Regions from separate parts of the Homo sapiens genome. Here region 1 is linked to region 2. The links come from fine-mapping of genetic effects on gene expression. A gene starts in region 2. The other region holds a variant in brackets. All regions are shown on one strand. Distances are from middle to middle.

Evidence for each region.
Region 1: its variant is fine-mapped to the expression of NELFA in cerebellum (GTEx, PIP above 0.99).

The regions. Positions count from the first base shown.
Region 1 is chr4:1,979,155-1,993,894 of GRCh38, reverse strand. NSD2 (nuclear receptor binding SET domain protein 2) reads right to left here. Exons shown (of 22, transcript NM_001042424.3): 22 at 11,703-14,740. NELFA (negative elongation factor complex member A) reads left to right here. Exons shown (of 11, transcript NM_005663.5): 2 at 2,180-2,351; 3 at 4,026-4,187; 4 at 5,888-5,977; 5 at 7,493-7,623; 6 at 7,712-7,781; 7 at 8,031-8,119; 8 at 8,976-9,087; 9 at 9,782-10,047; 10 at 10,200-10,299; 11 at 10,392-11,172. The coding sequence ends at 10,576. It overlaps MIR943 (microRNA 943), which reads left to right and starts at 7,418; the gene lies at 7,418-7,511. RefSeq lists an enhancer at 1,248-2,087. The variant C/T (reference allele first, on the strand shown) is at 8,684.
Region 2 is chr4:2,002,839-2,017,578 of GRCh38, reverse strand. It overlaps NELFA (negative elongation factor complex member A), which reads left to right and starts at 8,605. Exons shown (of 11, transcript NM_005663.5): 1 at 8,605-8,829. The coding sequence starts at 8,620. It overlaps LOC124900839, which reads left to right. Exons shown (of 4, transcript XM_047416543.1): 4 at 7,406-8,573. The coding sequence starts at 7,818. The coding sequence ends at 8,573. RefSeq lists a silencer at 7,855-8,234 and enhancers at 8,295-8,814, 8,422-8,922.

The DNA of each region.
Region 1 (14,740 bases), 24 kb after region 2:
GGGAAGGCGGAGGTTGCAGTGAGCCGAGATCCTGCCATTGCACTCCAGCCCGGGCGACGACAACAGCGAGACTCTGTCTCAAAAAAAAAAAAAAAAAAAGGCCCAGGGGAGCTCGTTCCCACCTTCCACCAGCAAAAGGCACCTTCCATGAAGCTGGAAGGGGCCCCCACCAGGCGGGGAATCCACCAGCGCCTTAATTGATCTTGGATTCCCACCTCCAGAACCGTGAGAAGTAAATTTCTGTTGTGTGTAAGCCAAGCATTTTCTTTTTTCTTTCTTTCTTTTCTTTTTCTTTCTTTCTTTCTTTTTTTTTTTTGAGATGGAGTTTCGCTCTTGTTGCCCAGGTTGGAGTGCAATGGTGCGATCTCAGCTCACGCAACCTCCGCCTCCTGGGTTCAAGCGATTCCCCTGCCTCAGCCTCCCAAGTAGCTGGGATTACAGGAATGCGCTACCACGCCCGGCTAATTTTGTATTTTTAGTAGAGACAGGGTTTCCCCATGTGGGTCAGTCTGGTCCCCAACTCCTGACCTCGTGAGCCGCCCGCCTCTGCCGGCCGAAGTGCGGGGTCTACAGACATGAGCTACCGCGCCCGGGAAAGCCAAGCGTTTTCCTACAAGAAGCCCCAGTAGAGCGAGCCAGGCTTCAACATGCGCGTTCTGGAGAGAAAACATTGACTCCACAACAGTGGTCCTTTTTGTTTTAAATTAACATCCCCGACTTTTTTTATCCTTACCATTTTTATAAAATGCCGCGCGCTTGCCTCTTGGCAGGCGTAGGGTTTCCCTGGGGCTGCTGTGGAGAGGCCGCACTGGCTGGAAACAGCCGGGCTGTGCGGCTGCCAGAGGCAGCGTGTGCGCAGCGCTTCCTGCAGCCACGTAGCATCTTCTGCCGCATCGCGCACTCAGCTCGGGCGGGCGTCGGGAGTGAGGGCCCGGGGCGCAGGGTCAGCGGCCGGGGCGACACCCTCCCTGGTTGCCCAAGGAACAGAAGGGGCTGGGCCACGCGGGGGGTTCTTGACTCCTGAGGGCAGCTGGGTGTCCTGCAGGGCAGATGCAGAGGGGCTTGGCAGCAGGCAGGCTCCCCTGGCACGACCTCTGATCTCTGCCCTTCGAGCCAACTTCCCTCAGGGCAGGAAGCCCATGAGGACAGTGAGGGAAGCGCTGGAAGGTCCTCCCACTCAGAGGCCACCAGGAGGCGGCGCTCGCGGGGACGTGATGGCCGCAGCCCTCGTAGGACGGGTCTCTGGCGCCTGACGCAGGGAGTGGGTGTCAGGAAGGCCTGGGGCTGGGGTTTCAGCCCCGGCGTCTGGACAGGGCAGGGCGCTGTTGTTCACCCCCAGCGCCAGCCAGCCCAGCTGTCTCACACTGTGAGCAGCCCAGTGGGCGCATGGCAGAGGCACAGGCACGCCATGGCCTGGCTCTCTGCGTTTCCTCGTGGGAGGGGGTTTATGTGGCCGAAGCAGGCCCTGGTGTGGATGGATCTGGCCTCCCAGGTATTGAGGGAGCACGGGGTGCGCCTGCTTCCTCCACGCACGTCGCCCATGGCCTCCCCAAGGCCCTGGCCTCACTCCAGATCCCGGGGCCACCTCCAGGCTCCACGAGCGCCAACTCCCAGCGCCGTCCAGACCCAGAGGCAGCCGTCCCTGCCTAGATGGTGACTAGGCACCAGCTCAGCTGTCACGGGTGCTGCCCCAGGTCCCAGGCCCCACCCCCTGCTGCCCAGGCACACACCCCCGCGGCAGGTGACTCCACCCTGCTCCTGCGCTCTGCTGTGCCGGGCACCTGCCTGCTCTACGCCCCTCATCCCCAGGATTTCCCACCCGCAGGCTTTCTGCGGGAGCAGTGGTGGCCCCGGCTTCTCACCCTTCAGGTTTTCTTGCATCTGCGCACCGGTGGAAGAGTAGGCCCAGTGGACTGGGTGCTGCTGGGAGGTGGGAGGCTGCTGGGAGGGCACCGGATGCCGGGGCCTTGCAACCTGGCAGAGGCTGTGCTGCTCAGGGAAGCAAGGTGGCCCTGGGGTGAGGCGGGGGGCTCAGAGGAAGGGGAGCCCTCAGGAGGAAGTGTTGGGGGCAACTGCCAGAGAGCCCGGCCACTGCCCAGTGCCCATCCGGAAGCTCAGCAGGGAGTGGGCTTGGAAGTGGGCAGGGGCATGGTGGCGCCGGCAGCATCCTATTTTGCAGATGAAGGGCGCCCTAATGGAGATCATCCAGCTCGCCAGCCTCGACTCGGACCCCTGGGTGCTCATGGTCGCCGACATCTTGAAGTCCTTTCCGGACACAGGCTCGCTTAACCTGGAGCTGGAGGAGCAGAATCCCAACGTTCAGGATATTTTGGGAGAACTTAGAGAAAAGGGTATGTTGTGCTGCTTTAATTCATGTTGGGTGGAGGGAAATGGATCTTTCTTGAAAAATTTTTTTCTGAAATGAATTTGATTTTTAGACCTTTACGTTTTTCCGTGTGTCCTGGTCCCTAGAATATTAACTGTATATGCACCATCCTCCCCCGTAAGCTGCTGCCTGGCTTTTGCCATCTTTGAAAACAAACTCCAAACAGCCCACAGGCCCCATCCTCACTGCTGCGGTGTCAGTGGGAGGCTGTGTCACGCCACTCGCCGTCTCTCTCTGGTCGGCTCCGTGAGGGTAGGGGCTCTGCCCATTCAGGTGGTATCTGTAGATCCTAGGTTCTAGGGCCCAGAGCATTCCCTGGCCCAGAGTACATGCTCAGAAATGCATGTTGAAAATATCAACGATTTAGTTGTTTAAATGTGAACTGAAAGTCACTTAGAAAATATTCACAAGGCTGGGCTCCGTGGCTCACTCCTGTAACCCCAGCACTTTGGGAGGCTGAGATGGCCAGATTGCTTGAGCCCAGGAGTTCGAGACCAGCCTGGGAAACATAGCAAGAACCCATTTGTACAAAAAATAAAAATTAGGTGGGCGTGATGGCACATGCCTGTCCTCCCAGGTACTTGGGAGGCTGAGTCAGGAGGATCACTTGAGCCTGGGAGGCCAAGGCTGCAGTGAGCCATGATCGCGCCACTGCACTCCAGCCTGGGTAACAGGGTGAGAATGTATCTCTTAAAAGAAACAACTATTTGTAGATGGATTTGAAGAACATGTCTTGATGGGATGCTTGATGCTTGTGCTTTTCTGAGTTTCTCTCCTGCTTTGGACAATTGGAACTGGCTCCTCAGAGCCCAAACGTTGTGCCCCAGCTCCTTCAAGGGCAGCACCCAGAGAGACAGGGTTGTGGGATGGAGACATCGAGGCTGCACACTCCTGCAGGGGCCCTGCTGGCCACCCCCCTGCAAGTGGCACCTCTCCCCACCTGTGAGGTCACACACACCACACAGATGCCTCTGGAGCAGTGGTCTGGACAGGTCCACCCCACCCCACCCGTTCGTGTCTCAGGAGTGTCCCGCGGGCAGGAAGGCTGAGGCCGGTGAACTCTCATGTGCCTGCCTGTGCTTTTTCTCCAGGTGGGGCACGTAGCCAGTTCAGGTGGGAGGTCGCCTGTCCCTCGTGGGGCAGTTTCTGGGATCTGAACCGTGGGTGAGCACACAGGCTGAGGAAATGGATGTGGGCAGTTTGGATGAGGGCCAGGGTTCCAGGAGAGACCACCAGCCTGGCTACCCTCGGGGACGGGAAGAGAGAAGCCACAGATCGGGGGTCCTTCTTACGTGGGGGTGGGATCTGTTAACATTTCATGTTCTACAAGTGTCTGGAGCCCTCCAGGAATCACTGTATCTATGTCCGCCTGTGGTTCTTGGTGTCCGCGGTGCCAGAGGTTTCCAGTTTACAGCCCTCTCAAGGCATGCCCGCCTCTCAGGCATTCCTGTTCTGCAAATGCTCCTGGGTGTTCTGCTGGAGCCGTGGGGAGTCAGTCTCGAGGACCTCAGGGGACAGCCGAAGCTCCCATGACCTAACCCTAACTGAGGAGGGTGTGGGGCTGGGCAGCCGCCAGCTCCTCTCAGCCGGGAGGTCTGCGGCCTGGGCGCCCCTAACTTCATGTGGTTCTTACCGGCAGTGGGTGAGTGTGAAGCGTCTGCCATGCTGCCACTGGAGTGCCAGTACTTGAACAAAAACGCCCTGACGACCCTCGCGGGACCCCTCACTCCCCCGGTGAAGCATTTTCAGTTAAAGCGGAAACCCAAGAGCGCCACGCTGCGGGCGGAGCTGCTGCAGAAGTGTGAGTGGCCGCGGCCGCCATCGGGCATTGTCTTTGTAGTTTCCAGTCATAGGTTTCTTAGGTTCTAAGGTACCAAGACTGCCCCTTCAAGGTGGCGTTCTGGGCCAGGCATGGTGGCTCACACCTGTTGGGAGGCTGGGGCAGGTGGGTCGTTTGAGCCCAGGAGTTTGAGACCAGCCAAGAAACCCCATCTCTACCAAAAGTACCAAAACATTAGCCGGGCATGGTGGTGCGTGCCTGTGCTCCCAGCTACTCGGAAGGCTGAGGTAGGAGGATCACCTGAGCCCACGAGGTTGAGGCTGCAGTGAGCTGTGATCACACCACTACACTCCAGCCTGGGAGAGAGTGAGACCCTGTCTCAAGAAAAAGAAGATAAAGTTCTGCATAAAGTTTTTTGTTAGAAGTTTATCACTATATTAAACTTTATGTTCTGAAAACATGCTTTAAAAACTTCAGAATTTAGGCTGGGCATGGTGGCTCACACCTGTAAACCCAGCACTTTGGGAGGCTGAGGCCAGCAGATCACCTGAGGTCAGGAGATCGAGACCAGCCTGGCCCACATGGTGAAACCCCGTCTCTACTAAAAATACAAAAATTAGCTGGCTGTGGTGGTGCATGCCTGTAATCCCAGTTGCTTGGGAGGCTGAGGCAAGAGAATCACTTGAACCTGGGAGGCGGAGGTTGCAGTGAGCCAAGATTGCCCCACTGCACTCCAGCCTGGGCAACAAGAGCGAAACAACATCTCAAAAAAAAAAAAAAAACCCACCAACTTCAGAATTTTAGGTGAAGGCATCTCTAATCTCTGTGACCAAATGAACTCTGTGCCAGCTGAGTCACGCTGTTGGGCACGGTGGGTGCCAGGGTGAATGGCTGGAGGGGCACGTTCCTTACTCTCACGTTGCTGCCTTCTGGAGTGGCGGGTGATCTCAATTCCACTTGAAAGATATTTAATCATTTCAGTTAACGTTTTCCCAAAGCACGACAAAGATTTCAATAACATCGTTTTATTTTGAATGGTTATGGAATTAATATTTATAATGTACATCAATACCCCGTTTCCAGAGAATCCAAATAAAAGGCTGACAGCAGCTGTGCATGGATCTTGGCTGGAACGGGCAGCAGCCAGGGCCCAGCGCTGTCCGGGAGGCTCCGTGCAGCCCCGGGCCCACTGGGTAGCCCAGGAAGGACTCTGCTGGCCCCTTGGGCCCCACCCCCTTTGGAGGCCAGCAGTGGCCACAGGGTCTGCTTTGGGCACTCGGTGTCCCCTGACCCTTCAGCCACACTGAACCAAGTCAGGAATATCTCTTCGTTTGTTTCTTCCTCATATTTTTGTATCTAGACCGTGCCTGCTGACCCTCAGCGAGGACGGTGCTACCACTGGGCCAGGGGGAGGCCCGGGTCGATGGAGAGGGCTCATGAGGTCCCTCAGCTCCTCCTCGGCTGCCTCCCCCCTGCCATGGGGTCCTGGGAGGTGCAGCCACAGCCACCCAGCTCCCGAAACTTGCTCACCTGAGTGAGTTTCTGACTCGTTGTAAAGTGCGAGCTGGTGTCAGGCCCGGCTCGGAACAGCTGCTCATTTAGAGAGAATGCAGCGTTCACGGCTCAGGCCGTCGGATGAATCCACTTGACAGAGATGTTTTTACAAGGGCCAAGGGCTCTCGCTCTGAGGATCCCTGACATATGTGACCTCTTCCTTCCAGCCACGGAGACCGCCCAGCAGTTGAAGCGGAGCGCCGGGGTGCCCTTCCACGCCAAGGGCCGGGGGCTGCTGCGGAAGATGGACACCACCAGTAAGGCCCCCACCCTGGTGCCGTGAGCCTTGCTTTTGGGGCAGAGCTAAGGGCTTCACCTGGAGACCCGCTCCCTGTTGGGGAGGTGGTGCCTGTGAATGGTCTTCAGGCAGCAGTGTTGGGAGCCCGTGGGAAAGCGAAGGCACTGGGGCAATTTCACCGGCTTCTCCCCTTGGGGAGCTCCCTGGGAGGATGTGTGGGCACGGAGACAGGAGGGCCGGGATCTGAGGACAGTGCTGGGCACGGAGACAGGAAGGCCGGGATCTGAGGACACCGCTGGGCATGGAGACAGGAAGGCCGGGATCTGAGGACAGTGCTGGCCCCTGCTCCTCTGCTGTTGGCACCGGTGGCTCTCGGCCTTCCCAGCTCGGGCTTTCGGCCCCAAGTGCTGCTCTTGGGTTCCGAGTGTCCCTGGGCGGCTCCGCGGGGAGGACGTGACCGTGCTCAGCTGCCCGTGGGGCTGTGCCCCCCGCACCCCTCCATCTGCCCTTCCTGATTTGTGCTCTCAGGGCTGGGCGTGAGCTTAAGCAGGATGCACCCTGATCACAGGAAGACGGCGTGCCCCTGGGAACCATGGCAGGGCATACTCACCCCAGAGGGTGCTGGATAGTGACCTGGGGGCCAGAGGGCAGGACGGGTGTCGTCCTGTGCTGAGACAGCTGGGTAAACTTGCAGATGGGTGGGGCTGAAAGGGCAGCCTTACAGGCGCTCTCCATGCAGCTCCCAGACCAGCCTGGCTTAGTTTATTTGGGCTCCCATAATCCCACAGTGTTCACATGGGACCTAGTAGAAGGCATCTTGGGTCTGCTGACTATTGTCGCTGTGTGGGGGGCCGTCCCTGGGTCATGTTCCTGCCCACCGCAGCCGAGGTTCCACCTTGCTCTCCTCTACCCCGCCTGGAGCAGACCCTTGTCTTTCCACCCCCACCAGGCATCCCAGGGCCAGGGCTGCACCTGCTGGCCCAGGGAGGGTGGGCCAGCCGTTGAGCAGTGTGTCCAGCCTGGCCCGGTGTGCTGATGGCACCATCCCCCGGGCGTCCTCTCTCCGGGCCTGGCACCATGAGAGCCACGCACGCCTTGGAGGGTGCGTGTGGGCGCTGGTGGGTAACAGCGTAGGTAGGCCTCAGGAGTGTCCTCAGGGGACGGGGAGAAGGCTTGGGAGGGCGGCCCTCAAGCCCAGGCGCCTGGCTTCATGCCCCTGCCGGTGGAGGCACAGGAAGGAGGCAGAGCTCAGCCCCCGCCACACTGGTGAGAGACTCCACCTGGTGAGATCCTGTGGCTGGGCTGGGGTGCCGCTGTCTTTGTTTGGTGTCTTGGCAAAGTGTGAGGTCGTGGCTCCAGGCGTTCCCCTGCTCCTTGAGGTCCGGGATCCTGGGGGTCCTGCCCGCTGCCCGCCAGGGGTTTGGCCCTTCCCCTCTGCGGCGCTAGCCTAGAAGAGGGTGGGACGTTCTGAGCTCGGGGTGGGGGACGTTTGCCGGTCACTGCTGCTGGCGCCCTGACTGTTGCCGTCCTCCAGCCCCACTCAAAGGCATCCCGAAGCAGGCGCCCTTCAGAAGCCCCACGGCGCCCAGCGTCTTCAGCCCCACAGGGAACCGGACCCCCATCCCGCCTTCCAGGACGCTGCTGCGGAAGGAACGAGGTGTGAAGGTAGGCCCGTCCCCCAGCTCCTGTGGCACCCCGGGGCCCGTTGCGCCCTGGTGCCGTCACTAAGGCAGGGCTGTGCTTGTCTTGGCAGCTGCTGGACATCTCTGAGCTGGATATGGTTGGCGCTGGCCGAGAGGCGAAGCGGAGAAGGAAGACTCTCGGTGGGGGTTGGGGCCTGCGTGTCGGCGGCAATGGGGGTCCCTGCGGGCCCTGCCCAGTTGGGGTGGGTTGTGCCCACGCTCGGCGGGCAGGGCTGTGCCCCGTGAGGCTGCTCTCCGTGGGTGGGTGCCTGCTTTTCTCCTCGCTCCTTGGTGGCCTCCCCTGGGAAGCTGTTTGATTCCCTGCCGCTGCCCTGAGCTGACACTGCAGACGCGCCCGGGCACTGGCGAGGACTCCTGTTTTGTCCACAGATGCGGAGGTGGTGGAGAAGCCGGCCAAGGAGGAAACGGTGGTGGAGAACGCCACCCCGGACTACGCAGCCGGCCTGGTGTCCACGCAGGTAGGGCTCGGGGCTGCACCCCATGTCTGGCACCACTGCGGGTGCCCCTTTTGTTCCGATTGTGGCCACTAGTGTGCTCTGTCGGAGAATATATATATGTATGTACATATGTGTGCAGTCTGTATTTATGTATATATACGTATATGTACATGAGAGGCAGTGTGGGCCGTGCCCTGACATGGGCATCTGACTCAGGCTTGGAGCGGGAACCTGCCCCACGCTTGCTGGAGGGGCTGCCAGGGGAGTCCTCCTCAACCCTGTGCCTCAGTGTCCCGTCAGGCAGGGCTGGTGGGACCTAAGCCTTGCACGTGGCCGTGAATGGGTGCAGGACAGGCCTGTGGGGGTGCTGGGTGGTCAGAGGCCTCAGTGTCCCGGAGACCAGGCCCTGCCTGCGGGTGGGAGGCAGCCACGGGGCGCGGCAGGTGCACAGAGGCTGCAGTGGGTCGTCTGAGGCCAGGGCCTGGAGGAGGCCACACTGTGGGGTCACTTCAGGATAATAAGCTCCTTTCTTCCCGCCGCTGCGTGTTCTGTGTTTCTTAACATGAGCATCTTCCTTTATATCAA[C/T]GCTTCGTGGTAAGAAAAAGCATCGCTCCTTCTGTGCTCAAGATGGGCTGTTTGGGCTCCTCAACCCCTCCCCTCTCCTACACAGGAGCGGCTCAGTCCCCAACTCTGCTGGGGCGCCAGGGGCCAGGGGTCCCGTTGTCTAGCCCAGGGAGCTCGGGAGAGTGGCCCCCGCCTTCCTGCTCTAGCTCGGGGGGCCACAGCCTGTGGCAGTGGAGCTCCGGGTCGGGCCATGTGTTAGCACATGCCGGAAGCATGGCCTCTTCTGGAAGGAACCTTAAACTCTGTGTTCCAGAAACTTGGGTCCCTGAACAATGAGCCTGCGCTGCCCTCCACGAGCTACCTTCCCTCCACGCCCAGCGTGGTTCCCGCCTCCTCCTACATCCCCAGCTCCGAGACGCCCCCAGGTGAGTCTGCTGGCCCCAGCCTGGAACCAGCCAAGCTGCCTGCCAGGACATGACCTTGCCCACGGGCGCTGCCAGGGCTGCGGTTCTCACTCCTGCATCTCTGTTGTCCCCCTTCTGCCTCAGCCAGAATCTGCTGGGGGCAGATGCCCCGCTGTTCAGCTTGAGCTCCAAGACATAAACCAGCTGCTTTGCCCCACCCTGCCCGTCCTGGGCACAGACAGGCAGCGGCCCCAGGGGACACGGCAGGAAGGGGATTGGGTTCGAAAGGGTTTTCTGCCAGGTGACCCAGCTCTTGTTGCTGGGTAGGCGGGAGGGGAGCTGAGAGCCATCCCCTCCCAGACGGAGGGCACTGCCAGGCTCACAGCACCTCAGGCCAGGTCCTGGGCCCAAGGGGCTTGAGGATACAGCCTTCCTGTCTTCCCAGCAGTGCCTACGGTATGGGGACCTGCTGCAGGCCAGCAGCTGGCCAGAGTCCAGACATCTTATCTGCGAGTCTGGAAAGGCCTGAGACCACTGGCCTTGTTCCTCTGGCTGGGGCTTCTGGGGCCTGTGCCTTGGCTGGGGGCCACAGGGAGTTCTTGTCAGAGGGTAGCAGGACAGAGAAGGGGAGCTGAGCCTGTCACCTCCAGGAGCACTAGGGTTTGGGAACAGGGTGGGGGTCCAGCCCCCTCACCAGGCCCCGGTCTACTTGCAGCCCCATCTTCCCGGGAAGCCAGCCGCCCACCAGAGGAGCCCAGCGCCCCGAGCCCCACGTTGCCAGCGCAGTTCAAGCAGCGGGCGCCCATGTACAACAGCGGCCTGAGCCCTGCCACACCCACGCCTGCGGCGCCCACCTCGCCTCTGACACCCACCACACCTCCGGCTGTCGCCCCTACCACTCAGACACCCCCGGTTGCCATGGTGGCCCCGCAGACCCAGGCCCCTGCTCAGCAGCAGCCTAAGAAGAACCTGTCCCTCACGGTAGGTGTACACTGGTAGGGCCCACAGGCCACCAGGTAGGTGGTACGGCCCTGGCCACCTCCCCTAGCGTGGGGGTGCCACGGTGCCTGCAGGGGGATGCAGGAGGTGGTCCTGGCGGGGCCCTGGCACCCACACCCCTCTCCCCGCTGTAGAGAGAGCAGATGTTCGCTGCCCAGGAGATGTTCAAGACGGCCAACAAAGTCACGCGGCCCGAGAAGGCCCTCATCCTGGGCTTCATGGCCGGCTCCCGAGGTATGTTCATAAGGCAGGGCCTGGGGGTGCACCGGGCCGGGTTGGGGGCGGGTGCCCCCAGACACCCACCCAGCAGCTCCTGCTCTCTGCAGAGAACCCGTGCCAGGAGCAGGGGGACGTGATCCAGATCAAGCTGAGCGAGCACACGGAGGACCTGCCCAAGGCGGACGGCCAGGGTAGCACAACCATGCTGGTGGACACAGTGTTTGAGATGAACTATGCCACGGGCCAGTGGACGCGCTTCAAGAAGTACAAGCCCATGACCAATGTGTCCTAGAACCACCTGCCTCACAGCTGGCCGTCACTTGTGGGGGTCCACGGGACGATGGCTTTGCCAGCTTAAAGTAACCGGATGGCGGACACCTGGCCCCCGAGGTCCCCCGGCCGCCGCCCTGCTGCTGACCCAGCCTGTTTTAAGTTCTGGATGCATTTCTCTGGGGTATTTGGGGCTTATTTTTAAAATTTTAATATGGGTTCTTTTTTGTGTGATTTAAGACACTTTTTGGACTCAACGTTACATTTTTGAATGTAGTAAGTAAATTAACCAAAAAAGTTACAACTTCCTAATTTTAGTGACAGCTCTGCCTGTTAGACTCTTACTTTTTAAAATCTTTTCTATTTTCCCTCGCTGGGGCAGTGCCCTCCTACCCCCAGGGTTGAGGGGACCAAGGTGGCACGGTGGTACTGGGGGTGCGGCAGGGACACCCGACCACACCAGAGCGTGGGAGACGGTGGGCCTTGTCCCCTGCCTGTGCCTGCCTGGGAGTTTTGTATTCATCTTTTGTATAGTTGTGGACATTTAAGACAGTCTTTGGGTACCTATTTTCATTGTAAAACTATCTGAACCATTAAAGTCGAGCTTTTCTAAAGAAAGCCACCATAGCTGTGTTTGGGGCCAGCTTGTCCTCCCTGCTCCGGGGACCCAGTCCCTCCCTAGGCGGCCATCAGGACGGGGTGGGCCAGGGCTGGGGGCTTCCTAGGACACCCTGGCCCACAGGGTGGGGAACAGGTAGGATCAGCCCTCGGGGTACTCCCTTGACTTACTTGGCTGTGGGCCTGGGGACCACCCGGCTCAGCCGACTGCAGGGCTGGGGGACAGCAGTGCTTCCTTCTCTCTAGACCATTTCACCCTTAATGGGAATTTGGGAAGCAAATTATTTCTGAAAGAAGAAGAAAGCATTTTTCCAAAGTCAGTCAGTTATGCCTGCTATTTCCAGTATTTGTTGTTATACTTCCCAAGGTGGCACTGCCTCTCCCCAGCGGGTCAGGTCAAAGGCAAAATGACACAGTCAGGACAGGGAGCCCCACCCATCGGAGGCATCAGTGCCACACCCGATGCTTTGCAATTCAAAGTAACTGGAAAAAAAATCAAACAATCCCATATAAAATAAGTTAAGAAAAAAGCCTTTAAAATGTTTTTAATACAAAAATACTCATACACAATTTTCCAAACACAGCTTTCCATTTTAAATGCTATTTTCCCCCAACTGGCAAGTCTCAACTCTCTATTTCAGTATATCCCTCCCCCCAAAAAGTGAATTTCAAGTTTTTAAGTCTAACTATCAAACCTGGTGACAGCACCCAGTATTCCTAAAAGGAATCTGACCTTACATTGTATGAAGTTTAGACACCAATAGGCACATTTAAGTTTGTATTTAATTTCTGACGGGGCATTTCACACCTCAACAGGGTATGGTGAGGCTGTGACACCCCGTGGACACAGCATTTTACTCTACTGACTAACAAACAGTCATCAACTACACTCATAGGATCAAGATATTTGGCAACTGACAGTCATTTGCATTAACTTGAATTATAAAACAGGTTTAATTCTGGAAAATAAGGTAGTCCTGGAAGATGGGCACTGCACACGCCGGGGTTTAGATGTCAAGACAGACAAACACTGCGAAGGGGACCCAGCCAGCCATGGACGGGTGTCGCCGGAAGAAAGGCCGGCCTGAGGACGGACAGCTGGGTTCTCACTTCAGGTGCCTGAAGAGTTTCCCCCACAGGTGACCACATTTTAAGCTGCCCATTCGGACACATCCCCCTGTGGGCGCACACGGGTGGGTATGGGTTTAGGTGCAGATGCTGGTTTCGGATGCCAAGGAATCCTGAGGGATTGGGGCGGTTTTTGTGTTTTGCTTCACATTAATGATGGAGGATTGAAGCTGATGTTCAGGAAGTCACCACGTCCTCAGAACAAAGCTGGGCAGGGCCGAGAGCCAGCCACACCCACGGTCACAGCTGGGGGCGTGGTCAGCCCCAGTGGCGAGAAACCCTGCAAGCTCAGGGCCGCTACCCCAAAGCCTGGCTCCACTGAGTTATCAACGGGTATTGTAGAGACATTCAAAGTTAGTGTTACTTGCTCATTAGTTTAACAGTTTTTGGAAAGGGGGAGAAACATATTTAAAATGTTTGCATTATTTCCTTCAGAAAAATCATAAAATTTGGAAGTATTATCAAAGCGATTAAAAATCACAAGATTTCACTACTGTCCAACACAAAAATAAGTTAATATCTGCTCCCCAAAGTGCACTGCAAAGCCGATTCTGCTGTTTTGACGTAAGCATTGGTAGTCCCTTACCTGCCGGAAGGGATCTTTTGGGCAAGTGACAGCGGGGCCCTGGGGCCTTCGACTCTAAGGTGTGTGTGGGGACACTGCCCGGCCTGTCCCTAGAACAACCTTCCAAGTTAGGGCATCATAAGGAGCATAAATCTATGAGCCGATCCAGTATTTTCTTAGGACACTTTGGGAGAAGTTAGAGTCTGAACTGGAAAGCACTACTCCCACCCTGTCTTAACCGGCGAGTGCCCCTCAGAGGCCACGGCCGCGCGAGCAAGTCAGTGGCTACACAGCTCGTTTCCCCTGGGTCCTCTGTGTAGTTAACTTTGCTGGGGACCCTGATGGGAGAAGGGACAGCCACCAGCCAGTGAAACTTCCAGTCAGTGCTCAGGGAGGCGTGGGACCCTGCAGGGCCACACACCCCTGAACCCCACGCTTACAGGTCACAAAACCACGGAGTAGCCACTCTCAGGTCCAAAGACACTGCAGTTTTTACCAAGGCATAAAAGATGCCACAGAAAATTTAACAGGAGCCTCAGCAGCAGTTTTCAAGGGGAGTTCTGTAAACTTCTCTGCAAGATGGATGTGTCCCCCTTAGGTTATTTTAAGAAAAGGCCATAAAAAAGCACCTGCTGCTGAATGTTCTCTCCCTCCCTCCCAGACAAGCAGCCCCTCAGGACACGTGGGCAAAGGCACACATGGTGCCCCCTTCTCAGGGTGCTCCAGACTTCCCAGGGTCAAGGATCCCTCAAAAAAAGAACCAAGTCTTAAAACATATGTAGTACTCAGATAGATAGGTCTCACTCTGTAGAACTGGACCTTTTAAAAACTAAAGTGAAATCTCACAGGAGAGTGGGTGTCATACCTGGCCTAGACCAGTGCCCATAACACACGTACGAGGCACGCACACCTGCCAGGCAGGCCTCCACCCCCAGGACCGCACCTCTCAGTAGGTGCCCTGGCAGAGGGCACATGTGATCAGCAGAGACTGCATCTTCCATCACCAGACCCACAGAGTGCTGAGATGGAAGCCACTCTGGGTGGCAGGAGAGCTAGACTCCGTCTCTCTTTAGACCCACGTGCTGGGGTCCCCGGGGCCTGCAGCGCCCTACGGGGCTCCCTAAGTTGTCACTTCCTGTGCTCTAAGCAGACTGCGGTCTCACGCCCTGCAAAGTCACTCCTTTCGCCATGGAGCTCAGGGCCGCATCAGTAAACACACACTTCAGTCGGTGGTGATTTGTGAAATAGGTTTAGCAAAAATATATTGAGAATAAAAATCAGAAACTGGTAAAGAAAAGCCAAATGAAAAAAATATACAAAGTTATCCCCCAAATGTTGATAAGAACCTAGCGAGTTCAGAAGATAGGCCCAGGTGAGAAGTAGGCCCAACCCGGCCAGGCCTCGAAAGTGCTCCGCGTAAACTACACGTTGAAAGTGGACGTGTTATTGGCATTTCATTCAAATCCATGAGGAGAAAAAACTACGGGAGGAAATCTTACAACACCATTGCTGCCACCACCTGCAGGGCCAGCTTCTCACTAGGATGGAAAAGAAGCGTTTCTGAGGAACAATTCACATTAGTACAAAAAAATGATACAGCCATTTCCAAAGAGCAGAGTAATGATCACAATGGCAGTTTCGAGGAATCCAGGGTCAGTCCTCACACGGGCCTCACCCAGCCTCTCCCGAGTGGCGACGGCGCTGAGAGCCAGAAAGGGGGCAACGCGAAGACGAGTTTCTAGCGACCCTTGGGAAAAGCCTACGCTACACATTTCAGAGGAGATTAAAACATTCCATATGCCAATTAACTTTAACCTAAAAAAATAGAGTGGGAGGGAACCTTGACATTCGGAGAAATTCAAGTGTGGCGGTAAC
Region 2 (14,740 bases):
AGTCTAGATAAAATACTAACAAGCGAAATCTAGCAACGTGTAAAAAAGAATAACATAGTCCAAGTTGGGCTTATTCTAGGAAAGTAAGGTTTATGTAATTTGAAAGGCAATCAATGTAATTCATCACATTTACAAAATAAAGGTGAAAAAATCATACAATCATCTCAGTATGCACAACAAAACATTTTATAAGAACATTTGATAAAATTAAATGTTGGTCATGATTTTTAAAAACCTGTAGCAAATTAGGAATAGAAGGGAACTTCTTTAATTTGATCTAGGGCACCTTAAAAAATAAGCAAACATGGCCGGGCATGGTGGCTCACACCTGTAATCCCAGCACTTTGGGAGGCTGAGGCGGGCGGATCACGAGGTGAGGAGATCGAGACCATGCTGGCTAACACGGTGAAACCCCATCTCTAATAAAAATACAAAAAATTAGCCGGGCGTGGTGGCGGGCGACTTGTAGTCCCAGATACTCAGGAGGCTGAGGCAGGAGAACGGCCAGAACCCGGGAGGCGGAGCTTGCAGTGAGCCAAGATCACACTACTGCACTCCAGCCTGGGCGACAGAGTGAGAATCCGTCTCAAAAAAATAAGAATAAAAATAAGCAAACATATCACTTAATGGACTCATGTAACAGTGAAAAGTATGGCGGGATAGCTAACAGGCCAACCCTCCCACTGATTAAAGGCTTTGGAGCATAAACCAAAGCAAGCGGATTTTGGAGGGAAGTAAAAACTTGGAGGAAAGGACCAGCCTGGTGAATTTGTTTGTTTGTTTGAGACAAAGTCTTGCTCTGTTGCCCAGGCTGGAGTGCAATGGTGTGATCTCAGCTCACTGCGACCTCTGCCTCCCGGATTCAAGCAATGCTCCTGCCTCAGCCTCCTGAGTAGCTGGGATTACAGGTGCCCACCACTGTGCCCGGCTAATTTTTGTATTTTTAGTAGAGATGGGGTTTTGCCATGTTGGCCAGGCTGGTTTTGAACTCCTGACCTCAGGTGATCCACCTGCCTCGGCCTTCCAAAGTGTTGGGATCACAGGCATGAGCCACCACAGCTGACTGATCCTGGTGAGTTTTAAGGCCATTTTCAAAGCTTAAGCCTGAGGACAGCTAGGGAGCCCCGGCATGGTGCAAGCAGATAACCCTAACAGAAAACTGACTGTCTTTCTGGATTTACAAACCAGAAAACAGAGCCTGGACCCACACAATTTCCAGGAAGTCAGGAGGGAGTCCTAAAACGGAAAGAGCCAGAGAAGTCTCTGATAGATCATGCAGGCAAAGGTAGCCTCTAGCAGCTTGCAGGCAGGGCCGCACTGAGATTTGAAAGGCCTCTAAACCTACTCTACAGAAAGCCCAGAGGCAGACACAAAGTCAACAGGGGAGAGGTCACTCCTGCCTTTACACAGCTGCTGAGAATAGATGAAAAGTCTTGCCAACTTATTTAAAAGGCTAGGCTGGGCACGGTGGCTCACACCTGTAATCCCAGCACTTTGGGAGGCTGAGGCAGGCGGATCACAAGGTCAGGAGATCAAGACCATCCTGGCTAACACGGTGAAACCCCGTCTCTACTTAAAAAAAAAAAAAAAAATTAGCCGGGCGTCGTGGCGGGTTCCTGTAGTCCCAGCTACTCAGGACACTGAGGCAGGAGAATGGCGTGAACCCAGGAGGTGGAGCTTGCAGTGAGCGGAGATCGTGCCACTGCACTCCAGCCTGGGCGACAGAGCAAGACTCCGTCTCAAATAAATAAATAAAAGGCTAGAAAGCCATAATTCCCAATCTAGATAAAAATGAATATATACAAATAAAATTATAGGACAATTCACTCATAATCAGAGGTGCAAATTTTAAAGAAATTCACAGCGAATTAAGAGAAACAGGGTTGTGATTAGGGTGACGTATGTGAAGCACTTGCTTTGGGCAAAATATTCAGGAGGTTCCAAAATAGTTATTAAGATAAATATTTTTCAATTAGTAGCTCCTATAAAAGGAAAATAATTTAAAAGAAAAAATATTTTAAAAGGTAAATATTTTAATACACTACCTTAAAGAGTCAAAACTCATGCAAAAAAACTATGGTGAACAAAATATAAAATTTTAAATGAAGACAGCATCAGTATCACTGATTGGTTTTCTTGCCTCAGCTCCAATATGGCTTGACATGGCACTGTTACTATCTGTCTTTGTTTAAAATTTCAGTATGTTGTTTATCATTGATTTTTTCTGGCATTGATTTTGAGTTTTTAAAATATTGCATTCAAATACCATTTGTTGTGATGGCTGAGTGTTCTGACCCCTGTTAAGCCTCCCTCAGCTCTCTCCCCTTGCCCGGGCCCTGGCCCTGAAAGATAATTCATCTTGACAAGTAAGGCTCCTCTGAGGAGCACAGGGACGGTTGAACATCAGAGATCCTATCATGACCTTGGGCACCACATTCATAGCCTAAAGGAAGGGCAGCGTGAGATTTTCTCAACAGATGCGGAAAAGCTCATTTTTCTTAAAGAGAAACACTGTTAGGATGAAAACTCTGGAACATAAAGGAAACAAGAAAACTTCCTTAAGTGGACAAAGGTGATCCACTAATAACTTAGATTATTTCATGGATAAAATTTAGACATGGGCCAGGTGTGGAGGCTCAGCACTTTGGGAGGCAGAGGCGGGAGGCAGAGGCAGGAGGATCCCTTGAGCCCAAGAGTTTGAGACTAGCCTGGGCAATATAGCAAGACCCTGCCTTGTGAAAAAAAAATTGGACATATACCTTTACGACTGAAAGCAAGACAACAGGATTCTTACTGCCCTGCTAATGTTCAACAGGACTGGAATCTTTGGCCAATACCAAAAAAATAATAAAGGAAAAGTATAAATATACATGGAAGACACAGAACTGTCATTGTCTGTAAATGAAATATTCAGAATAACCAACTAAATCAACCCACTATTAGAATAAATATAGGAGTCCATAAAGGTTGTTGGATGTATGTCCAACTTAAAAAATAGTATTTCTCGTATTCATAATAACCAACTGGAAAATAGAATACAGGATATCATTCATAAGAGCATGAAATACACTAAGGCATCTGAGTTAAGCTAATGAAAATGATTAGGAACTGTATGAGGCCTGGCGCGGTGGTGCACACCTGTTATCCCAGCTCTTTGGCAGGCCAAGGTGGGAGGATTGCTTGAGGCCAAGAGTTTGAGACGTCATCTCTACATAGTGAGACTTCATCTCTACAAAAATTTCAAAAGCTAGCTGGGCATGGTGGCACGCGCCTGTAGTCTCAGCTATGAGGCTGCAGTGAGCCAAGATTGTACGGCTGCACTCCAGCCTAGGCAAGAGTGAGACGCTATCTCTAAAAAAAATAAGTAAGAAAGAACTGGCCAGGCGTGGTGGCTCATTCCTATAATCTCAGCACTTTGGGAGGCCAAGGCGGGGAGATCACTCAAGGCCAGGAGTTGGAGACCAGCCTGGCCAACATGGCAAAACCCCATCTCTACTAAACAAACAAACAAACCACAAAAATAGGCTGGGTGTGGTGGCTCACACCTGGATCCCAACAGTTTGGGAGGCCGAGGTGGGCGGATCTGAGATCAGGAGTTCGAGACCAGCCTGGCCAACATGGTGAAATCCCGTCTCTACCGAAAATACAAAAATTAGCCAGGCTTGGTGTTGCATGCCTGTAATCCCAGCTACTCAGGAGGCTGAGCGATGAGAATCACTTGAACCCGGGAGGCGGAGGCTACTAGGGAAGGTGAGAGGCAGGAGAATTGCTTGACCCCGGGAGGCGGAGGTTGCAGCGAGCCGAGATCGCGCCACTGCACCCCAGCCTCACCAACAGAGCGAGACTCTATATCAAAAAAGAGAAAAACACAAAAATTAGCTGGGCATGGTAGCATATGCCTGTAGTCCCAGCTACTTGAAAGGCTGAGGCATGAGAATCGCTTGAGCTTGGGAGGCGGAGGCTGCAGTGAGCTGAGATCGCACCACTGCATTCCAGCCTGGGCAACAGAGTAAGACCCTCTCTTAAAAAAAAAAAAAACTGTATGGAGAAAAATAGTAACGTCTACTGAAGATCATAAAGAAAGAAAAATGAAAGCTTGTCTGTGTATCATATACTATATAAAGATGTCAGTTCTCTCTAAATTAATCTACAAACCCAATGGAAAGCCAATCAAAATACCACTAGGGTTTTTTTTTAGAAATTCAGTAAAGTTGTAAAATTTATTGCTTTAAAGTAAAAATAAGGACTTTTTTTTTCCCTTTGGTCGCCCAGGCTGGAGTGCAATGGCACGATCTCAACTCACTGCAACCTTCGCCTCCCGGGTTCAAGCAATTCCCCTGCCTCAGCCTCCCAAGTAGCTGGGATTACAGGCGCCTGCCACCACGTCCAGCTAATTTTTGTATTTTTAGTAGAGACGGGGTTTTACCATGTTGGCCAGGCTGGTCTCGATTTTGAGATGGAGTTTCCCTCTTGTTGCCCAGGCTGGAGTGCAATGGCACGATCTCCGCTAACTACAACCTCCGCCTCCTGGTTTCAAGCGATTCTCCTGCCTCAGCCTCCTGGGTAGCTGGAATTACAAGCGCCTGCCACCACGCCCAGCTAATTTTTTGTATTTTTAGTAGAGATGGGGTTTCACCATGTTGGCCAGGCTGGTCTCGAACTCCTGACCTCAGGTGACCCGCCTGCCTCAGCCTCTCAAAGTGCTGGGATTATAGATGTGAGCCACCATGCCCAGCCAAAATAAGGACTCTTTATGTTGCAGAGTCAGGCAAATAAATTAGAAAAAAAGATAAAACTGCCTTCACAAATGGCATGATTGTCTTTGCAGAAAACTAATACAATGTATGAAAAAACTACTGGAACAAATAAATGCGTTTAGCCAGGCTGCAGGATACAAAATCAACACACAAAAATCTGTTGTATTTCTATATACTGGCGACAAACACTGATAAATTAAAAATTTTAAACAACACCCTTTACAACCACATCAAGGTTATGCAATACTTGGAGGCAATTCTGAAAAGATGTGCAAGACCCTTACATTGAACACTACAAAATGGGGCTGAGAAAATTTATTTTTTAATTTATTTTTAATTTTTTAGAGACAGAGTCCCACCATGTGGCTCAGGCTGGTCTTGAACTCCTGAGCTCAAGTGATCCTCCCACCTCAACCTCCTAAGTAGCTGGGACTACAGGCGCACCACCAGCCCAGCTTTTTATATTTGTTGTAGAGATGGGGTTTCGCCACGTTACTGAGGCTGGTTTCCAACTCCTGGGCTCAAGCAATCCACCCTCCTCGGCCTCCCAAAGTGCTGGGATTACATAGCCATGAGCCTAGCTGAGAGAATTTAAAGACCCAAATAAACAGAGAGAAATACTATGTTCACTAGACAGAAGTTACCAGTTCTCCCTCAACTGACCTACAGATTCAACACAATTCCACTCAAAATGCCAGAAGCCTTTTTTTTTTTTTGTAGAAATTGACAAACGATTCTAAAATTTATATGGAAATGCAGGCTGGGCACTGTGGCTCACCTGTAATCCCAGCACTTTGGAAGGCTGAGGTGGGTGGATCACTTGCGGTCAGGAGTTCTAGACCAGCCTGGCCAACAGGGTGAAACCCCGTCTCTACTGAAAATACAAAAATTAGCCAGGTTTGGTGGTGCATGCCTGTATTCCCAGCTACTTGCAAGGCTGAGCCATGAGAATTACTTGAACGCAGGAGGTAGAGGCTGAAGCAAGCTGAGATTGCATCACTGCACTCCAGCTTGGGCAACAGAGCCAGACCTTGCCTCAAAAAAAAAAAAAAAAAAAAAAAAAAAAAAGGAAATACAGAGGACCTAAAATAACCCAAATAACTTTAAAAAAAAAAAAGTCAGAGAATTAACACTACCTGATTTCAACACTTATTTTAGAAAGCTATAGTAACCAAGACAGTCTGGTATTGGCATAAAGATAGATGAGTAAGTCAGGATAGAAAAGTCCAGAAAGGATCGTCATTTCGACAAATAATATGGGAACAACTGGATACCATGTTTTAAAATGAAAAAAACTTTGGCTTTCTAATTTTGCAATCTGATAGGTGTAATGAGGCATCTTGTTATTTTAATTTGGGTTTGTCAGGTTGCTGATGAATTTAAGCATCTCTCCATGTGCTTCTCCGGTATTTGGGTTTCTCCTACGAATTGCTTTTTTTTTTTTTTTTTTTTTTGAGACAGAGTCTCGCTCTGTGGCCCACGCCTGAGTTCAGTGGTGTGATTTCCGCTCCCTCCAACCTCTGCCTCCTGGGTTCAAGCGATTCTCCTGCCTCAGCCTCCTGAGTAGCTGGGATGACAGGCATGAACCACCACGCCCCACTGTTTTCGTATTTTTAGTAGAAACGGGGTTTCACTATGATGGCCAGGCTGTGAATTGCCTATTCTTATCTTCTGCACATTTGTCTATTGTCGGTCTTTTTCTCGTCGATTTACAAGCATTCCTTTTTTCATTCTGAATATTAATCCATTGCTTTCTGATGCTGTAACTAAGTCCTCCTAGTGGTTTGTCTTCTTGGTTAAGCCAGATGTTAACTTGGATTTTTCCTGCATAAAACTGAAGACTCAAGATGCATCAAGCACTGTATACAGAAAAGTGCTGCGTATCCTACAGAAAGCTACAGACAGTTGGGGGTCAGAATCATTCGGATTGTTTCAAGTTTGGGGCTATTATAAATAAAGCTGCTATAAACGTTTGCACACAGGTTTCTGTGAACAAAAATTTTCATTTCAACCAACTAATGTTTACGGTTCAATCATGATTTCACAACTTGAAGTAACTTTCACTCTTCTCATACTAAATTTGATATGTCGTCCACTGTTAAACTATTTCTTACCCTCAGATTATAATTATTAAACTTTTTTTTTTTTTTTTGAGAGGGAGTTTTGCTCTTGTGGCCCAGGCTGGAGTGCAATGGCAAAATCTCGGCTCACCGCAGACTCCGCCTCCCGGGTTCAAGCCATTCTCCTGCCTCAGCCTCCCGAGTAGCTGGGCTTACAGGCAAGCCATGCGCCACCAAGCCCGGCTAGTTTTGTATTTTTAGTAGAGACGAGGTTTCTCCATGCTGGCCAGGCTGGTCTCGAACTCCCGACCTCAGGTGATCCGCCCGCCTTGGCCTCCCAAAGTGCTGGGATTACAGGCGTGAGCCACCGTGACCGGCCTAATCATTAAACTTCTTTCAGCACTAGCCCCACTGATGTCACAACTTCACCCATTAGTCAATAACTTGTCTTTGCTGAATTCGACACTTTTGAATCATTTAAAAAATATTCTCTTAAATTTTATGTGCTATTTGCAATGTAACGGTTGTCGACATGACAGTTTTAAGTTTAATCTTTATCATCAACATTTTCTCTATCACTTTCTTCAGTTTAAGCAATCAACAAAACCACCGCTCCAGCACTGATTTGTAGCATTTGCGGGTTTCCCCCGTGTGACTTCCGCAGGACTGCCAAGTTCAAGCCGCCAGGGCCAGGGCACTGCTAGCAGCTGGGCTGAGCCCTGTTCTCCCGGCGTTCCCACCGCCCAGTGGCAATAGCTGTGAACGGCGGCAGGAGCATGGCAGTGGAACAATAAGGAAAAGATCTTTTAAAAAAAAGATATAATACAGAAGCCAAGCAAGGCGGCCCCGACCTGTAACCCCAGCACTCTGGGAGGCAGAGGCGGGCGGGCGGATCGCTTGAGCCCAGGAGTTTGAGACCAGCCTGGCCAACATAGGAAGGCCTCGTCAAAAAGACAAAAGGGTAAAACGAATTTAATAAAATGAAGTTTAACTTTTACTCATGTTTGTATCTAATGACAAGCTTTTAAAACTGAAAAGTTCACTACTGGCTCCTGCCTGGCGGCTCCAGCCCGACTGGGGGCCGGGGCCTCCCTGCACTGTGGGGTCACGAGTGCCCCTGGACAGCTCCCGAGCGCCCTCCGACCCGCATGCTCAGCGCAGCCCCGTCGGCGGCGCGCCACGGGCAGAGCGGGCTCAGCGGGGGACGGAAGCTCAGCGCTGCGACCGGGATCCCGCAGGCTCGCTCCGCAGGGCCGCGGCTCCTCTCCGTGCAGGTGCTGGGCCCGCGGGGGCGGGGCGTCCACACGGTCCGCGCCGAGACCCAAGCGGGGAAAAAGCGAAGAGCGGACAGCGGGGCAGGTGCCACAGGGAGCCTCCGCCCCACCGCGCGAGCAGCAAGTCTGCGGCGCTTGACACCTGCACTGCGAATGCCAGGCCGCAGCCCGGGCTCCCAAGACGCGAATACGCGCGCCTGCTCGTGACGTCATTTTTTGCGGTCTTCCCGAGAGCCAGCAGAGGGCGCCGCCATGATGTTTTACGGAAGCCGATAGTCCTTGCTCAGCGGCACCCCGTCCTTCCGGCTCTCGGCTTTGCCACAAAGCTTCCCGAAGACGCGGCCGCTACCCGGAGACGCGGTCGCCACCCAGAAGCGCTCTCCCGGGAAGCCCCGCTCGTGGGACCGCGCCACCTGCGCCGCCTCTGCGGCCCGCAGCCCGACGGGCGCCGCCATGTTGGGGTCCTAGCGAGGGACGCGTAGGTGTCTTCATAAGATGCCGGGGCAGCGGCGCGCGCTTTCCCCCAAGATGGCGTCCATGCGGGAGAGCGACACGGGCCTGTGGCTGCACAACAAGCTGGGGGCCACGGACGAGCTGTGGGCGCCGCCCAGCATCGCGTCCCTGCTCACGGCCGCGGTCATCGACAACATCCGTCTCTGCTTCCATGGCCTCTCGTCGGCAGTGAAGCTCAAGTTGCTACTCGGGACGCTGCACCTCCCGCGCCGCACGGTGGACGAGGTAAGGCAGGCGTGGCGCCCCGCGGCCCCCAGATTCCCAACCTTCCCACCTCCGACCCGCACACCCAACTCCGGACCCTCCTCGCTCCCTCCCCCAACCTTCCCATCCCCCTTCAGACTGTTAACCCCCCCGGCCCGCCCTCACGCCCCCTCCTCGCTCCTCCGAATACCTCCCTCCAGTCCTCACCTCCCCCTGGGTCCTCATCCCCCGCCTCGATCCTCATCTCCCACCTCGGTTCTCATCCCCACCGTGGGTCTTCAGGACCCCCCGCCCCTCCTCGCCCCCTGGGAATCCCCCACTAGGGTCCTCACCTCCCTACTTTTCGTCCTCACCCCTACCCAAGTTTTCACCTCCCCTGGGATCCTCAATCTCCTCCCCGCCGGGCCCCGGGTTCTCGCTACGACCCCCAGGTCCTCACTCCCCTCCCTGGGCCCCCGGGTACTCATCCCCACCCGCCCCCGCCTCCCCCGCCTTCGGTCCTCACCACCCTAATCCCCCACCGTGCCGAAGCGACCGACTCTTGGAGCGGGGGTGCGCCGGCCCCAGCGGGGTCTCCCATCGGGGTTTCCCGTCGGGGACGCAGCCCTGGTGACCTGGGCGAGGGCGGGGATCCCGAGAGAAACCCCCGCGTGAGGAAGGGGCGGCCTGGGCTCGGTAGCTCCAGTGTCCGCTGACTGGATTTTCTTGTTCTCACCTCGCAAAGACCCCGGCCGTCCGGAGCGCTCTGTGTCCGTTTTACTCTTTTCTACACGCCGTTTTGCGTCATTCCAATAAGTGGGTGTGTGAGGTTTGTTTTCTTTTTTCCTAAACTTTATATTGTATCGCTTTCCGTGCGAAATAAACCGAGTAGTTTTGCAGACTATTGAAGCCCCATGGTTGTTTAAACGTTCCTGGCTACTGATGTATTATTAGCTATTATAGGTTGTAATTGCTTTTGATTGAGATATGACATGTATGGAAAAGTGCATTTTTGTTCAGTTTAACGAATAATAATAGCATCGCGAGCCACTCCTGTGATCCTTACACAGGTGGAGAAGTAGAACCATGCCTGTTCCTTGGAAGCCTCCCACTGGTAATCACGGCCTTCTTCCTTTCCCCTTCCTCATTTTGGAAAGGTAATCATTTCTGTGCCATCTCCCCGGTGTGAGCAATTATTTATGCACCCCTAAATGGCACAGCTTGGTTGCCGGATTTGGAGTTAGTGTGATGGTATCATAGTGTATTTTGTGTGTGGCGTGCATGTGTCTTTTTGGTCGACGCCGTGACAGTTTCATCCACGTTGCAGCTGACTGCAGTTTAATTTTCACTGCTGCGTGGTATTCCTGTCTGTGAGCACGAGGCACTTTATCCATTCTGCCACAGTGACACGCTTAGCTTTTGTGCTCTTGTAAATCATCCCGTTACTACATTACGGTCATATGTTCAGGTGTTTGGAATCTTGGATTTCTCTAGGGTATAACATCTAGGAGTGGAATTGTGAGGATCATAGGATCATGCCAAATTATTTTTCAGAGTGTTTTGTTTTTGTGTTTGTGTTTTGTTTGAGACAGGGTCTGGCGCTGTCAACCAGGCTGGAGTGCAGTGGCACCATCGTGACTCACTGCAGCCTTGACCTCCTCACCTCAGATCTTCCCATCTCAGCCTCCTGAGTAGCTGGGACTACAGGGTTTCACCATGCTGCCCAGGCTGGTCTTGAACTCCTGACCTCAAGCAATCTGCTTGCCTCAGCCTCCTGAAGGGCTGGGATTACAGGTGTGAGCCATGGCACTCGGCCTGCTGTTTGGTTTTCTGCTTTGAGAATTGTATATTCAAATCTGCTTTTAAATTCTCTTTTTTCCCATTGTTTTGTAAGAGTGTCTTTTTTATTATTTATTATAAATGCTAGATATCAGTCCTTTTTCAGTTACAAATATCTCCCAGTTGTCCTTTGACTTTGACTTAGCTTCCTGGAATCCTTTTTTTTTTTTTTTTTTTTTTTTTTGAGACAGCGTCTCACTCTGTCACCCAGGCTAGAGTCTAGTGGTATAATCATAGCTCACTTTAACCTTGAACTCCTGGGCTTAAGCAGTCCTCCCTCCTAAACCTCTGTAGTAGCTGGGACTGATGCGCTGCCACCACGCCTGGCTAATTTTTGTGCATGTGTATGGAGATGGGGGTCTTACTGTATTGCCCAGGCTGGTCTTGAACTCCTAGCCTCAAGTGATCCTCCTGCCTTGGCCTCCCATAGTGTTGGGATTACAGGTGTGATCTGTGCGCCCAGCCCTTTTCCTGGAATCATGGATGAATAGAAGCTCCTAGTTTTAACATAGATGGTGTATTCATCCGCCCACTATCATTGGTGCCTATTGTGTCTCCCCGAGGGACATGCCCGGAACACTCCCTGGGTTATCTTGGCGTAGCTGTACAGTTTTACCTTTCGCACTTGAATCTTCAGTCTGCGTGGAATTGATGATTGTGTGAAGCAGGGAGTCTAATTTTCCACATGGATGTGCAATTAGTCCAGCACCCAACGTTGATTGAAATGACTGTCCTTTTCCATTGATCTGCACTGCAGCTTCTGCTGTGGATGTGTTTCTGGGCTGTGCTCTGTTCTTTTGGTCATTTACATATCGATGTGCTAATAACCCACTAAGTCGGTTCTTGTCACTTTATTTATAAGCCTTGTTAGCGGACGGAGCAAACCCTCCCACTGTATCTTTCTCCGGGATCATCTATGGCTATTCTTGTCCCTTCACACTTCCACATGTATCTTATATACTTACTTCTTAAACACGTAGAGCCTGCCTGCTGGGATTTTAAGGCTGAGCTGAACTTGCAGTTCATTCTGGGGTGCTGTCCTCTTTATATTGCATCCTATAATTTGTGGGTGTGGGCTTATCTATTTAGATGTTCTTTGTGATCTCTGTAGGGGTCTTCCATCTCATATATTACCACCTATTTCATATTTTTCCATGCCGTTGTAAATGGTATCTGTTAAAGTCTTAGTTTTTACTTGTTGCTGGTATATAGAAATGCGTTGATTTTTGTTTTTGTTTGTTTGTTTGTTTGTTTGTTTTTTAGACGGAGATCTCACTCTCTCACCCAGGCTGGAGAGCAGTGGCGCGATCTCAGCTCACTGCAACCTCCTCCTCCTGAGCTCAGGTGATTCTCCTACCTTAGCTTCCCGAGTAACTGGGATTACAGGCATGCACCACCACACCTGGCTAATTTTTGTATTTTTAGTAGAGATGGGGTTTCACCATGTTGGCCAGGCTGCTCTCGAACTCCTGACCTCAGGTGAGCCACTATGCCCAGCCTGATTTTTGGATAATGAATTTGTGACTAGTATCTGTGCTAAAGTTTTGCTAGTTGCAAAATTTTTTTTTTCTATAGAATCTCCTTGATTTTTCTGTGCACTTCATATTATTTTTCTTTCTCCAATTACCTTTTGTTTTTTTTCTCGTCTCACTGGACTGGCTAGGACCCTCCAGCTCATTGTCTTACCTCCGATCACACAGGGAGAACTCGGAATGTTTTGCCAGTGAGCATTATGTTTCCTGTTGTCTTTAATAAATACCCTTTATCTAGTTAAGGAAATTCTCTTCTTAGAAGACTTGTAAAAAAAAATCTTTTAATCATGAATTTTTTTAAAATAGCTTTATTGGCTGGGTGCAGTAGCTCACACCTGTAATCCCAGCACTTTGGGAGGCCGAGGCGGGCGGATCACGAGGCCAGGAGATCGAGACCATCCTGGCTAACATGGTGAAACCCCGTCTCTAAAGAAAAAATACAAAAAAATTAGCCGGGCATGGTGGCAGGCGCCTGTAGTCCCAGCTACTAGGGAGGCTGAAGCAGAAGAATGCCGTGAACCCAGGAGGCAGAGCTTGCAGTGAGCTGAGATCGCGCCACTGCACTCCAGCCTGGGCGACAGCAAGACTCTGTCTCCAAAAAAAAAAAAAAAGCTTTATTAAAATATAATGTATAGCTGGGTGCAGTAGCTCATGCCTGTAATCTCAGCACTTTGGGAGGCCAAGATGGGCGGATTGCTTGAACCCAGGCATTCGAGATCAGCCTGAGCAATATGGTGAAACCCTGTCTCCATAAAAAATATAAAAATTAGCCAGGGGTGGCGGCACATGGCTGTGGTCCCAGCTACTTGGGAGGCTGTGGCGAGAGGATCACTTGAGCCTGGGAGGTTGAGGATGCGGCGAGCCATGATTGCATCACTGCACTCTAGCCTGGCCGACAGAATGAGACCCTGTCTCAAAAGAAAAAAGATATTATTTTATGTACCATATAATTATGCCAGGTAGTTCACCATTTAAAATGTACACTTCAGTAGTTTTTAGTATATTTACAGGTTTGATGGTCATGCTAGTCAATTTTCAAACATTTTCATCATCCCCCAAATAAATCCTACACTCATTAGCATTTGCCCAGTCCTCTTCCTCCCCACTCCTAGGTGACTAGTAATCTACTTTTTGCTTCTATAGATTTGTCTATTCAGGATATTTTATATAAATAGAATCATACATCTGGTCTTTTGTGCCTGACTTCTTTCACTTAATGTAATGTTTTCTTTTTTCTTCTTCTTCTTTTTTTTTCTTTTTTTTGAAACAGAGTCTTGCCCTGTCGCCAGGCTGGAGTGCAGTGGCGCGATCTCGGCTCACCACAACCTGCGCCTCCCAGGTTCAAGGGATTCTCCTGCCTCAGCCTCCCGAGTAGCTGGGACTAGAGACACGCGCCACCATGCCCAGCTAATTAGCTAATTTTTGTATTTTTAGTGGAGACGGGGTTTCACCGTGTTGGCCAGGATGGTCTCCATCTCTTGACCTTGTGATCCACCTGCCTTGGCCTCCCAAAGTGCTGGGATTACAGGCATGAGCCACTGCTCCCGGCCTTTATTTCTTCTTTAAAAAAAAAAAAAAAAAAAGGATGCATATGCAGAACATGCAGATTTGTTACATAGGTATACGTGTGCCATGGTTTGCTGCACCTATTGACCCGTCCTTTAAGTTCCCTCCCCTCACTCCCACCCCTATTAGGCCCTGGTGTGTGTTGTTCCCCTCTCTGTGTGCATGTGTTCTCAGTGTTCAACTACCTGCCACTTATGAGTGAGAACATGCAATGTTTGGTTTTCTGTTCCTTTGTTAGTTTGCTGAGGATGATGGCTTCCAGCTTCATCCATGTCCCTGCAAAGGACAGGATCTCATTCCTTTTTATGGCTGCGTAGTATTCCATGGTGTATATGTATCACATTTTCTTTATCCAGTCCATCATTGATGGGCATTTGGGTTGGTTCCATGTCCTTGCTATTCTAAGCAGTGCTGCAGTAAACATACCTGTACGTGTGTCTTTATAGCAGAATGATTTATATTCCTTTGGGTATATATCCAGTAACAGGATTGCTGGGTCAAATGGTATTTCTGGTGTTAGATCCTTGAGGAATCGCCATGCTGTCTTCCACAATGGTTGAACTAATTTACACTCCCAGCAAAAGTGTAAAAGCCTTCCTATTTCTCCACAGCCTCGCTAGCATCTATTGTTTCCTGACTTTTTAGTAATCACCCTTCTGACTGGCGTGAGATGGTATCTCATTGTGGTTTTGATTTGCATTTCTCTGATGATCAGTGACGTAGAGCTTTTCTTCATGTTTATTGGCCTCATAAATGTCTTCTTTTGAGAGGTATCTGTTCACCTCCTTTGCCCACTTTTTGATGGGGTTGTTTTTCTCTTACAAATATGTTTAAGTTCCTTGTAAATGCTGGATATTAGCCCTTTGTCAGATGAGTAGATTGCAAAAATTTTCTCCCATTCTGTAGGTTGCCTCTTCACTCTGATGATAGTTTCTTTTGCTGAGCAGAAGCTCTTTAGTTTAATTAGATCCCATTTGTCAATTTTGGCTTTTGTTGCTATTGCTTTTGGCATTTTT